Linked DNA regions of Homo sapiens: region 2 is linked to region 1. The links come from fine-mapping of genetic effects on gene expression. Tissue or cell type: blood mononuclear cells. Region 1 holds a variant in brackets; the other region holds the start of a gene. All regions are shown on one strand. Distances are from middle to middle.

Region 1 (6,316 bases):
ACCTCACATCATTCTAATGTATTCCCAACATTTGCCATTCTCCCAAGAGCGCCTTAAACGTCAGAGGAAGGAGGCACAGGACATAATAACATCTTCTTGCACTTAGGATCATTGCTCAGGAAATTTTAAAGCACTTACCAGTGTAAGCGCCCTCCATTTCTCTGATAAAAATAATGAAAAGTGCTTGGGTTTATGATGATGGGCCTCTGTAAATTCTGATGATGGTGGACACATACATTTATAGAAAGAAAGTTTCTCTGTATAAGGTAACATTTCCAGGTCCTTCCTGCTGGGAGACTTGCTTATTCTCCCCCTTCTACTTCCTCTTCTACTCCTCTTCCTCCCCCACCTCCTTCTTTTTTCTTTTTTTTTTTTTTTTTGAGACAGGGTCTCACTCTGTTGCCCAGGCTGGAGTGGAGTGGTGTGATCGTGGCTCACTGCAACCTCGACCTCTCTGGGCTCAGGCGATCCTCCCATCTCAACCCACCTGCATAGCTGGGACTACTGGCACATGCCACCACACTCTGCCAATTTTTGTATTTTTTGTAGAGAAAGGGTTTTGCTGTGTTGTCCAGGCTGGTCTTGAACTCCTGGGCTCAAGTGACCTGTCTACCTTGGCCTCCAAAAGTGCTAGAATCTCCTTTTTTTCTTTTTATTTTCTTTCTTTTTCCCTTTAGTTTTGAGAGAGAGTCTCACTCTGTCGCCCAGGCTGGAGTGCAGTGGTGTAATCTCGGCTCACTGCAACCTCCATCTCCCTGGTTCAAGCAATTCTTGTGCTCCAGCCTCTCAAGCTCACACCATGCCTCGCTAATTTTTGTATTTTTAGTAGAGACAGGGTTTTGCCATTTTGGCCAGGCTAGTCTTGAACTTCTGGCCTCAAGTGATCCTCCTGCCTCCAAAAGTGCTGAGATTACAGGCATGAGCCACCATGCCCGCCTCCTTTTTTCTTACATTGCTTTGAAGAAATAAAAATCTTTTTCAAATTGATTACTTTGATTATTCAATTTGCTTCGATGTGACCTCTGATCATAGGTTGTATAACAGTGGTGTAGTCTTTGCAGTGTTTGGAAGGTCTCAATGACAACCCCCGTTCCTTGGGTTTAGACAATAGTCAGCATTCAGATTTATTCACTCCTTTTTTTTTTTTTTTTTTTGAGACAGAGTCCTGCTCTGTCACCCAGACTGGAGTGCAGTGATGCAATCTTGGCTCACTGCAACCTATGACTCCTGGGTTCAGACGATTCTCTTGCCTCAGCCTCCCGAGTAGCTGGGATTACAGGCGCCCACCACCACTCCCAGCTAATTTTTTTGTATTTTTAGTAGAGACGGCGTTTCACTATATTGGCCAGGTTGGTCTCAAACCCCTGACCTTGTGATTTGCCCACCTCGGCCTCCCAAAGTGCTGGGATTACAGGTGTGAGCCATTGTGCCTGAGCTTATTCACTCCTTTCAAAATGGTCAATTAGTTTCCAGATACAAATGAAAATGAGAGCTGATCTGGCATGGGGTGGGAGGAAGCTTTTAGGCTCAACTGGGTCTTCCAGGAAATCTCCTCTCCTCATTTCTTTCCTCCTCACCCCTTAAACTGGGTAGAGACTCCTCTTAGCTGCTTCCATAATACCCCTACACATATCTCAATCATTGCACTCACACCTTTTTTTTTCCTTTTGGCTGTATTACCTGGTGTTACAAGGGCACTTATTAATCTTTGTTAACCAAAGTTTAATGGCCAGACTAAAATATTTCAATTGCAGTGATTTTCTAAGATTATAATTCAGAGTCGTAAGAATTTCCAAATTAGTAATAAAGCTTCTTTATATACTATTAGTACATTTCTTATTCTATTAGCAGAAACATAGAAAGTAATATCAGTGAGGACATCCACTGTGGGAAGCAATTCGATCAAAAAATCAGGGAGTGCAAACCCGAGTGTCTGCTTTGGTCACTTAGAGAGTGTACACTTGCTCATTGCAGATATTGGAAAGTAAATGGGGGACAATTTGAGGGAATCACTGGGTCCAGAGAATAATTTCTGATTTCTCTTGTCTGTCCCCTTTTACGTTAGGCTCTGTTATTTTTTAAATGTCTGGATTCTGGATGATAAGGTTAGAATTGGTGCTGATTTTATCACCGGGATGATGTATCCTTTAGATTTTCCTTTCTATTTTAGGGTTTTATGATTAAGATGAATTTCAAAACTTAAGCAAATATTAAATTCAGAATAATCAGTCTGGGCTCCTATGAAGTCCTATGTGTGTTCTCTCCCTGTGGTACGGATGGCCTGTCTCTCCAGGCACCTTCCTGGCCTCTGCTTGGCATTCTTCCCATGGGCATCTCCATGGGCATGTCCTTGCACTGCACATTTCAATTTCTGGGAGGATGCCCATCTCTGGGTGCTCTGATGTGCACCTGGTTTTCATGCCTTTCCTAAATGCTCCCCCAGCCCCATCAGTCTCATGGCGGATACTGCCTGAAAGGGCCTATCTGGCTCAACCCTCATGTTGTTATTACTTTCTTTCCAAAAAGACCTATTGAGCATCTACTATATGCCAGATTTTGGACCAGGAAATGGGGACACAACAGAGAAAAACATAGACTCAAGCTTCTGGACTTTCAAGATTCTCAAATTTTTATAGCTTTTGCTGAAGAGAAACTAAGATCTATTCAGCTTTAAAAAAAATGTTTTTAAATTTTTTTATTTTTCGAGATGGGGTCTCGCTCTGTCACCCAGGCTGGAGCACAGTGGCACGATCTTGGCTCACTGCAGCCTCTGCCTCCGGGTTCAAGTAATTCTCCTGCCTCAGCCTCCTGAGTAGCTGGGATTACAGGGGTGCACCACCACACCCGGCTAATTTTTGCATTTTTAGTAGAGACAGGGTTTCACCATGTTGGCCAGGCTTCCATTCAGCTTTAAGATGACATCTTTTTTTCTAGCATGATTTCCTTTGTGAATCCAC[A/C]GGGGAAAAATAGGAAATTAAAATGCACAACTGTAAAAAAAAATCATAAACTTTTCTTTCTTTCTATTTTTTTTTTTTTTTTTTTTTTGAGACAGAGTCTCACTCTGTTGCCCAGGCTGGAGTGCAGTGGCACGATCTCGGCTCACAGCAACCTATGCCTCTCAGATTCAAGCAATCCTCCTGCCTCAGCCCCCCTAGTAGCTGGGATTACAGGCACGCGCCACGATGCCCAGCTAATTTTTGTATTTTTACTATAGACAGGGTTTTGCCATGTTGGCCAGGCTGGTCTCGAACTCCTGACCTCAGGTGATCCACCCACCTCAGCCTCCCAAAGCACTGAGATTACAGGTGTGAGCCACCATGCCTGACCAAATCATGAACATTTTGAGCCTCTTTTATCACCTGTAAAATTATGGCAACATTCAAAATACCTAGACTTATCAATTTAAACTTTTAATGTACCATTATTCTAAATGAAATGATTAATTACATGACTTTGTATGAAAAGAAAAATAATTGTGGTTCTTTCCTACCCCGAACACCTTCCACTAAAGTAAACTTCATGTGTGCCACACAGCCACGTATAACACCAGCTATTTTAGTGCCAATAACAAATAATTAGTTTGATTATATAGATTGTTAATGTGTTATATATATGTCCTCTTCCTAGAGGGTGAGGACTCTTTTTCATATTTGAGTAGCTAGAACATAGAAGAGTTCAATAAATATTTGTTGAATAAAGGCAGATGGAATTTAGGAAGCATAAAAATGGGGTGACCCTTTCCTTTTTTTTTTTTTTTTTTTGAGACAAGGACTCACTCTGTTACCCAGGCTGGAGTGTAGTGGCTCAATCTTGGCTCACTGCAGCCTCAACTTCCCCGGGTTCAACCCATCCTCCTGCCTCAGTTCCCCAAGTAGCTGGGACTATAGGTGTGAGCCACCACACCTGGCTAATTTTTGTATTTTTTTTTTTTTTATAGAGATGGGGTTTCACCATGTTTCCCAGGCTGTTCTTGAACTCCTGGGCTCAAGCAATCCACTCACCTTGGCCTTCCAAAGTGCTGGGATTACAAGCATGAACCACCACACCTGGCCTGACCCTGTTTTGAAGTATGGTGCTTAGGATGGAAAGAAGGGAATGAAAATAGAAAGCTAAGGGTCCCATACATGTATTGCATGTTTACTCTACCTCTAACTGTGCTAAGTACTTTGTGTACATGACACAGAAGAACTCATATTTAATTTCATGAAGGAAGAAGCATCAGTTTAATTTTACAAACATGGAAACCAAAGCTTAGTGAGGTTGTGCCATGTTCAGTCACATGCCTGGCAAAACCATAGCTGTCACTCAGGTCAGAAAATCAGATTCACTTCAAATTTAGTGCCAGTTGTCATCAATATGTACTGTATCTTACAGACACGCTTTCTCAATGCTTGAGTTTGGGCAAACCTTGCTGGCAGGGTTCCTCCCCACCCCCTAGCCTGTGTCTCGCCTGTGTCTTCTGGATGCTAAGCCTGTGAATATTAATATTGTGACAGAGAATATCAAAGTGTGAGTTTTCCTTGAAAGTCATATATAGTTTGGGGAAAGGAATAATTTGATGACATTTCTGATTTTATTTACTGTTAGGGTTTTTCTTTTTTATTTTGGCAACATCTGGCAATAGGTCTCTGCATTTAAACACAAATCCCTAATGAGTTATTTGGAAATGAAATGATTGTCTTATTTTAGGAGATAGAGAGAGAGAGAGGGAATGGTGAAAGCTTTCTTGTGCTTATGTCTAGTATCAGTATCAATCAAATATTTTTAAAAATTTTGGGTTTTAGAATAAAATCTCACTTTCAATTTTGGGAATCTCTGTTTCTTCCTTTGCCTTGGGCCTTATTGATTTATTTTTGGGTTACTGCACATTTTCTTGCAATTCTGGATGGTGGAAATGTTTGCCCTTTAAAAGCAGGGGGCACTCTGGGTACAGACTGATGCTTCCTTCAAATCTGGAGTGAGAGAATTTTCTTCCTGGCAAGGGCCCCCTCCCACCTGCTCTGCTGTGGACATTGAATCCCCTCAGGGTGAAGGGTGGAGAATTAGCACGAATACTTAAAGCGGGTCTTGCTTACTCCGAAAGGAGTGAGGGACGGTTCTTCCCGTGCCTCTTTCAGTTTGGAAGGACATCCTAGGATGGATGTCATCAGTTCCTTGATGTAAGGAAGAGAGACTAATAAGAGGCATAAAAACTTCTTTTCCCTTATTTCACTTGACTCTTTGCGTCTGTCACAGATCCTGCTGGACTGACAGAACATTACACAAATAACCCTCCTTCTTAAGTAGCGACGGGGCGGCGGTAGGCATTTTTTCATTTAGAGTCTATCAACTGAGAATTGATAAAGTCATCTCAGAACAACTGTAGTTTGACCCTGACCTGACAAAAGAGATCGAAAATGTCTCGTGTGGAGAGAAGCAAGGGGGCTGGGAACATCATTGCCTCAGAAAGAAGCTTCAAGTCGGCTAAGGGCTGACACCCAAGCACCCCGCGAATGTGTTTAATAACTGGAAAGCAGATAGTGAAAGAGCAGTCAATAAACAATTGTGGTTTAATAAATTATTCATTTTAACAATACGTCCAGTGTTTGCCCAGAGATGGGAGAACGGCTGTAGGTTTTTTCCCCATCTCCTCGTCTGGTCTGAACCTGCCTGGATGCTGAGTTGTTCGCCATTCTGGACGGCAGAGGGCACTCGTGTCACACCTGAAAAGGGGATTGGCTGAGCCTTCCCAGCGCCTATCCGTGCTTATGAAGGAAAGATAGCAGAGATAGGAAGACGTCGAGAAGACGGAGAGAGGAAGATAGAAAACGAGTGGATAGCCCCGGAAATGAAAAATATATATTTCTCACAGGCAGATCAAATTCAACCCTGCACTGAAGCAAGGCATAAAGAAATAAATAGAAAACAGTCGCTCTATATTTCTTGGTTAAAATAATTTATTTATTTGAAGATCGTAGGATGACAGATTTGGAACAGTCGGGACAAAGGCAAGGAGATATTCAAAAAAATTTAACAGATTTATTTTCATCTTGAAAACCGAACTCTGATTTTCAGGAAATACTCTTAGGTATCGAGCGGTTCTCTTGGGCTTCACTGCCAGGGATAAATCAAAAATGCCTTACAGCTACTGAGGGCCCCTGGGCCGCTTGGAACAAAATCCCACCACACTTTAAAGCATGCCCTTCATGGAGATGAATCCCTAACATCAGTCAAACTCTGTCTTCACTTCTGTTCTCATGGCTCTGTGCTACGGCCTGATTTTATTTATGATACTGTGTCACATGAGGCGAGGCTCCTATTGTGGGTTGAGAAGGGC
Region 2 (6,316 bases), 94 kb before region 1:
CTTCTCTCACCCTTCCTCATCTGTGTGTGTCTCATGCCTTTCTGCATTTACTCCTGCTTTTTCCAAACAAAACGCTTTATAGTAATCTCTTCCAATCCTAACCATGCTTCAAGAGCCAGCTGAAATGCCACCCATTTCTAGAAGCCCAAAAGGGACTTCCTGCTTTCCTGCACCCTTGTGCCATTTCCAAGTCAAGAGAATAAAAGGTGTTTCATTTCATTAAACAGCCATTTCATTGTGCAAATCTCATCTCTTACTGGGCAGTAAACTCCTTAGGGACTGACTAAAGCTCATGTTTTTAACTCCCATAATAAAGCACCTACATTGTGTGAGACATTCTGTAAAGATCTGGAATGAGTGAACAAGCAATGAATGAATCAATGCAGGCATGTTTCTTCCAACAAGCTGCTGAAGCTAAAAATGCATGAACAGGAAAATTGTCTAGACTTTATAGTAACTGCCTACAAAAGTTTAAGTACCATAAAGTCCTTCAATTTCCTTATCTGTAAAACTAGGGGGTTTCAGGGGATTTCTTAAAAGAAGTTCATTAAACACTTTCTTGGGTCAAAAGCCCAACATTCCAATCTGACCTGATATTATTACTCAGATAACAGTAATTACTCAGATAACACAGCCATCTATGTTTTACACAAGCTAACAGTATTCCCATGAGGAGGTACCTACTAACCCTGCCTCTGAGACTTTGAGGGAATTTAAGATATAAGCTGGTACAGAAGACATCACCTGGTTTTCTTTTACTTTTCCTACCTCAAACCTCTAACAATGTTGTTCTTAAAATTTCCAGCAAGAAAAAAGTTATCAGGCAATATACTCATTCTGGCAGTTATTTCACAATGTACCACATTCCTACGAAATTGGGGGTGGGGGTGGGGAATCTAACTGTCAAGTTCACTCTAAGGAACAATATAGTTCAGAATCTCCAGCAACCAATTCAACATCCTAATTTTAAAATGACTAAGTTGGGCATGGTGGCTTCCACCTGCAAATCTCAACTGCTCCAGAGTCTGAGGATAACTCGAGGCCAGGAGTTTGATACTAGATTGGGAAATACCTAAATATCTGCCAACAATGCGAATAGTTTAAAGTCTTGGCTTCAATCACATTCCAGATGACCATTTTTAAAATATATACATTTTTTAAAATTTTTATTAATTTTGTTTTGAGACGGAGTTTTACTCTTGTCACCCAGGCTGGAGTGCAATGGTGCGATCTCGGCTCACTGCAACACTCCGCCTCCCAGGTTCAAGTGATTCTCCTGCCTCAGCCTCCAGAGTAGCTGGGATTACAGGCGAGTGCCACCACGCCCAAGCCCATTGGCCAGGATGGTCACGAACTCCTGACCTCGGGTGATCTACCCGCCTCCGCCTCCCACAGTGCTGGATTACAGGCGTGAGCCACCGCGCCCGGCCTATTTTTTTAAATTTTATAGGCCGGGGGGGCGGTGGCTCACGCCTGTAATCCCAGCACTTTGGGAGGCCAAAGCGGGAGGTTCACCTGAGCTAGGGAGTTCGAGGCCAGCCTGACCAACATGGAGAAACCCCATCTCTACTAAAAATACAAAAATCAGCCTGGCGCGGTGGCGCATGCCTGTAATCCCAGCTTCTCGGGAGGTTGAGGCAGGAGAATCGCTTGAACCCGGGAGGCAGAGGTTGCGGTGAGCCGAGATCGCGCCATTGCACTCCAGCCTGGGAAATAAGAGCAAAACTCCGTCTCAAAAAAAAAAAAAAAAAAAGTTATGTATTGCCTAGTTTTGAAAGAAAAAATTTATCAATTTTTAAAGTATAATTAATTTGTATGTAATTTGTGGCCATGGTAATGTGTGCCCAGGCAGAAACAGAGGTAGCAAAAAAGGAAAACTCAGGGTAGTTATTATGATGTATGAAAACAGCTCTTGGTGAAACTAAGGCCTCACTTTTACAAGATCTTAGATACACAGGACAAAAAATGATGTTAACTATAAAGAGTGGAAGCCTCCAAAAAAAAAAAATCCAAAGAAACGTAAAATGGCCGAGCGCGGTGGCTCACGCCTGTGATCCCAGCACTCTGGGAGGCTGAGGCGGGTGGATCACGAGGTCAGGAGTTCAAGACCAGCCTGGCCAAAATGGTGAAACCCCCGTCTCTACTAAATATACAAAAGTTAGCTAGGCGTGGTGACTGGCGCCTGTAATCCCAGCTACTCGGGAGGCTGAGGCAGGAGAATCGCTTGAACCCGGGAGCGGGAGGTTGCGGTAAGCCGATATCGTGCCACTGGACTCCAGCCTGGGTGACACAGTGAGACTCCATCTCAAAAAAAAAAAAAAAAAAAAAAAAAAAAAACAACGTAAAACGAATCAATGTGTTATTATCACGACTTAAAAAAAAAACTTAATATCTAGACCATGAAAGCTATATAAGCAAATAAGCATCATTTAGATTTTTTTTTCCATAAAAATTTCCGTTAAGTCGTGCAATAAAAAATGTAACCAACATAGTAACTCGCGGCCTCGGAAGGGGGAAATTTAACGGTCAAGAACAAGAAATTCTGAAAGCATGGCCTCTAAGGGTCAAGCGGGAACCTGAATACAGTCTCCCAGTTCTTACTAGCTTTGATGCAAGCCCCAGGCAAGTCGGGGAACAGGGAAAGAGGAAAAAGGGAACGCAGAAGGTTGCTCCGGTAAAGGACCCACTTTCAGGCCAGACTCCACGACCGGCAGCCCCGGGCTTCTCATTCATTCCGCGCGGTCTCCAGGTGGCGGCCGCGCGTTGGCGGCCGTGGCGTTCTCCGCCCGGAACTGGGGTGCACTCACCTGTTCGGGAACACGACCTCGCGGCGCCCGAGGCCGCCGAGGCCGCCGCCAGCAGCCGGGGGGATGCGGGCCTGGGAACAGCAGCCGGCGGGGACAACGGGCGGCGCAGCCCTGGGGCGGGCAGGCGGCGCAGGCCGGGCGCGTCCCTCTGCAGCAGGGCCGAGCAGAGCCGCCGCGGACTATGAAACATGCCGGGCGCCGCCGCCACCACGGCCCCTCGCGCGCCCGAGGAGCGGAGCCCGGCTGGGGCCGAGGGCACCGAGTCGAGCCGACTGTCCGGGCAGTGTGGGCGGATGCTCCCAGGCTCCTTCTCGCGCGGCGCAGGTTCTGGGGAAATCCCGGGCAGCAGAGCCGGAGAGGGAGGTGCAACACCGCTGCGTCGGCACCGTCTGCTGTGAGACCTGGCGAGACCTGCAGGGCGCCCGGCGAGCGCTGCGCGCTGACAAAGCGGGCGCTACCAAGCGGGAGCTGGAGGGGAATCCGCGGGACCCGGCCACTGCGCGGCCACGCCAGGCTCCCTCGACCCGGCGTAATCCTGTTTTAAAAGGAAGCGGGGCTTAGGCTGATTTATAGATAGAATCCGCAGGCGGTCTAAAATAAGAGGTATCCGTTGGAGCTGTTCTGAAGAAAAAAGCGTCCCCTTCCGCTGGCCAGCATGGAAGCGCCCACAGGCTGGGAATCCCGAGACAGTTCCAGGGCTGTGGCCCAGGGGACACGTGTCTGTCAGAGTGGCAGACGGCCTACGTGTGTGCCTGCGCGGGTCTGTGTGGATACAGCAAAAGGCGTCCGCCTCCGACCCCCTCGGCAGTGTGTGATGCGTTAAACGATATTAAGCACAATAAAGCACCGCCTGTGGGCGAGGCGACGATGATTAAAACAGCGTTCTTTTCCTCAAAAGTGTTATACTTAGGCAAAGGGAGCAGAAGGTGGCAAGGGAAGTCAGACCAGAAAGCTCTACAAGGTAGAATGAGATTATTGCCACAAGATGCCAAAGATTGGCTATAGAGATGACAACAGGCCCGGGCTCTCTAGAAGGTTCATTAGAAGGATTGGCATTTGAGTTGGCCTATGACGTGGAGGTCTAGAATTTACCCACGTGAAACTTTGGAGGGGGTGGTGGTGAGTTATAAATGAAAAAAGTAAATAAGGGTGTATTTGGGGAAACAACTCTTAGTCATGTAAGATGGAAGCTAAGGAGTAAGAGGACAGATGCGTGGATAGGTTGTAGTGTGGAAGGAAGGGGATTATAGTAGGCTTAATTCGGTGGATAGCTGCGAGCCGTTGACGTTTTGTAAGCTGAGCAAAGACATGGTCAGGGCTGTGCTTTAATTGGAAATCACATGTCTCTGGTTCATGAAAAGGCAGAAAGGAAATCAGCTGAGATAACAGATACTGTAGACCCGCACCAGGTTACTGTTACTGGAAAAGAAAGGATGGAAGAAACATCTCAGACAGGCTGGGCAGGAAATGATGACTAATCAGGAATAGAAATGGGATGAGGGGGAGGGAAAACCCAAGACTGGATTTTTCTCTGAATGATTCATGAGTTAGAAATGTATTCTATTGGTTTTCCCATGATTTTGCTGATTCCCCTGTGTTGTGGAATTGCAAGCTTTTCATCACAAGAATATTCTAAATATTTTTCAGACCTAGGTTACATATCTAACACCTGTGGATAGAGGGTGTGGACAGATCAGCTGGCACAAGTTGATTACAACTTCTGGCAGACAAGCTCCTTGGAAGTCATTAAAGCCTCAGTTTCAGTTTCCTTATCTATAAAACATAGAATCATACCTTAGTCATTAGGTGAAATAAAAAATGATAATAAGCTACTCTGGGCACACTGTCTATCGAGTAGTCCTGCTCCACAAGGAGCAGTACTTGTAAAAAGAATTTTTTTAAAAAGGTGATAATAAAATTAGCCTATGAAAAGTGTTTTGCAAATATAGCAAAATGTTGATTTTGAATCTAGGTAGTGGGTATATATGGGTATAGGGACCATGGGAAAAATGTTCCCTTTGCCCTCTGAAGTTTGCTGAAAAATCAACTCACAAAAGGCAGATTAATGGGAGAAAAGGCATATGCATTTATTAACATGTACATGGGGAGAATCACAGAGTGATTACACACCCCCAACGGGGTTCAGAAGCTTGTCTACCATCCTGGCCAACAGACTTGGGGAGAGGGGAGCAGAGGCATTCTGTTGAGGAGATGACTAGGGAAAGTGAATGGATCAGGGCACAGGGATGAACTTGCACATTATCTTGTGAAAGGGTCTGTTCAGGTGGTTACATTTTTGGTCTTACAAGGAGGGGAAGAAAAAACAATTGTTCCTTTTGGTGGGTTCGGATTGTAGCCAGATAAAGGAACTTCAACTTCATCCTGTGCTTTGGGAGAGATGGTGCTGGGCAGTGAGGTCAGAGAGACCTTGAGGCTTCCATTCAGCCGGTCAAAGCCCCATATTTTGGGCTATCAGTTTCTGAGTCCCGACACAAGTGTTCACTTACAATTATTTTTCCCCCATATATTTGGAGATTTTCATAATAAAATGTTGGGGAAAAGTGCTTTGAAAAATGAAAAAATAACTGTTCAAATATAAACTGTCACTATTTAAAGAGATTCAAAGAGCATGCTATCCTGAAAGTGCATCATATTATTTATTTTTTTTTTATTTATTTATTTGAGATGGAGTCTGTCGCTCTGTTGCCCAGGCTGGAGTACAGTGGCGTCATCTTGGCTCCCTGCAACCTCCGCCTCCCGGGTTCCAGCCATTCTCCTGCCTCAGCCTCTGGAGTAGCTCTGACTACAGGCGCACACCACCACGCCTGGCTAATTTTTGTATTTTTTAGTAGAGACAAGGTTTCATCATATTGTCCAGGCTGGTCTCAAACTCCTGACCTCAGGTGATCCCCTCGCCTCAGTCTCCCAAAGTGCTGGGATTACAGGCATGAGCCACCACGCTCGGCCTGAATCATATTTTTTATAATATATTAAACACTAAGCAATCAGAAAGATAGAAATTAAAACTTATTCCCTTGAAAATTTATTCAGTAAACATTTGTTGAATACACATTATGTGCCAGGCTCTATATTAGAGCATACAAAAATAAATTGAACAAAATCTATTGACAGTTTAGGGGGTAAGACATTGTATAAACAAAAATACTTGTAATTATCTGCTAATAAGTACAGAATCACTTATGGACAAAGTATTGTGGGACCAGAGAAGAGGAAATGTTACTGGAAAGGGGTCCCAATCCAGACCCCAAAAGAGGGTTCTTGAATATTACACAAGAAAGAATTCAGGACGAGCTCATAAAGTGAAACCAAATTTATTAGAGAAGTAAAGAAATAAAAGAATGGTTACTCCATAGGCAGAGCAGCACTGAGGGCTGCTTATGGCTTTTTCTTTTTCTTTTTTTTTTTTTTAATTGAGATGAAGTCTCGCTCTGTCACCCAGGCTGGAGTGCAACGGCACGATCTCGGCTCACTGCAACCTCCACCTCCCA

Evidence for each region. PIP is the estimated chance that this variant, and not a neighbour inherited with it, causes the effect.
Region 2: it holds the start of NOCT, and the variant in region 1 is fine-mapped to the expression of NOCT in blood mononuclear cells (TOPMed, PIP 0.97).

Annotation. Positions count from the first base shown.
Region 1 is chr4:138,918,677-138,924,992 of GRCh38, reverse strand. The region is part of intron 2 of LOC105377448 (a long non-coding RNA gene); the gene reads left to right. Among named protein-coding and RNA genes, the nearest start is that of NOCT, 94 kb to the left of the region's middle. RefSeq lists an enhancer at 5,636-5,695. The variant A/C (reference allele first, on the strand shown) is at 2,958.
Region 2 is chr4:139,012,663-139,018,978 of GRCh38, reverse strand. It overlaps NOCT (nocturnin), which reads right to left and starts at 3,198. Exons shown (of 3, transcript NM_012118.4): 1 at 2,808-3,198. The coding sequence starts at 2,997. RefSeq lists a silencer at 2,759-3,058 and enhancers at 3,199-3,548, 3,581-4,502, 3,639-4,838.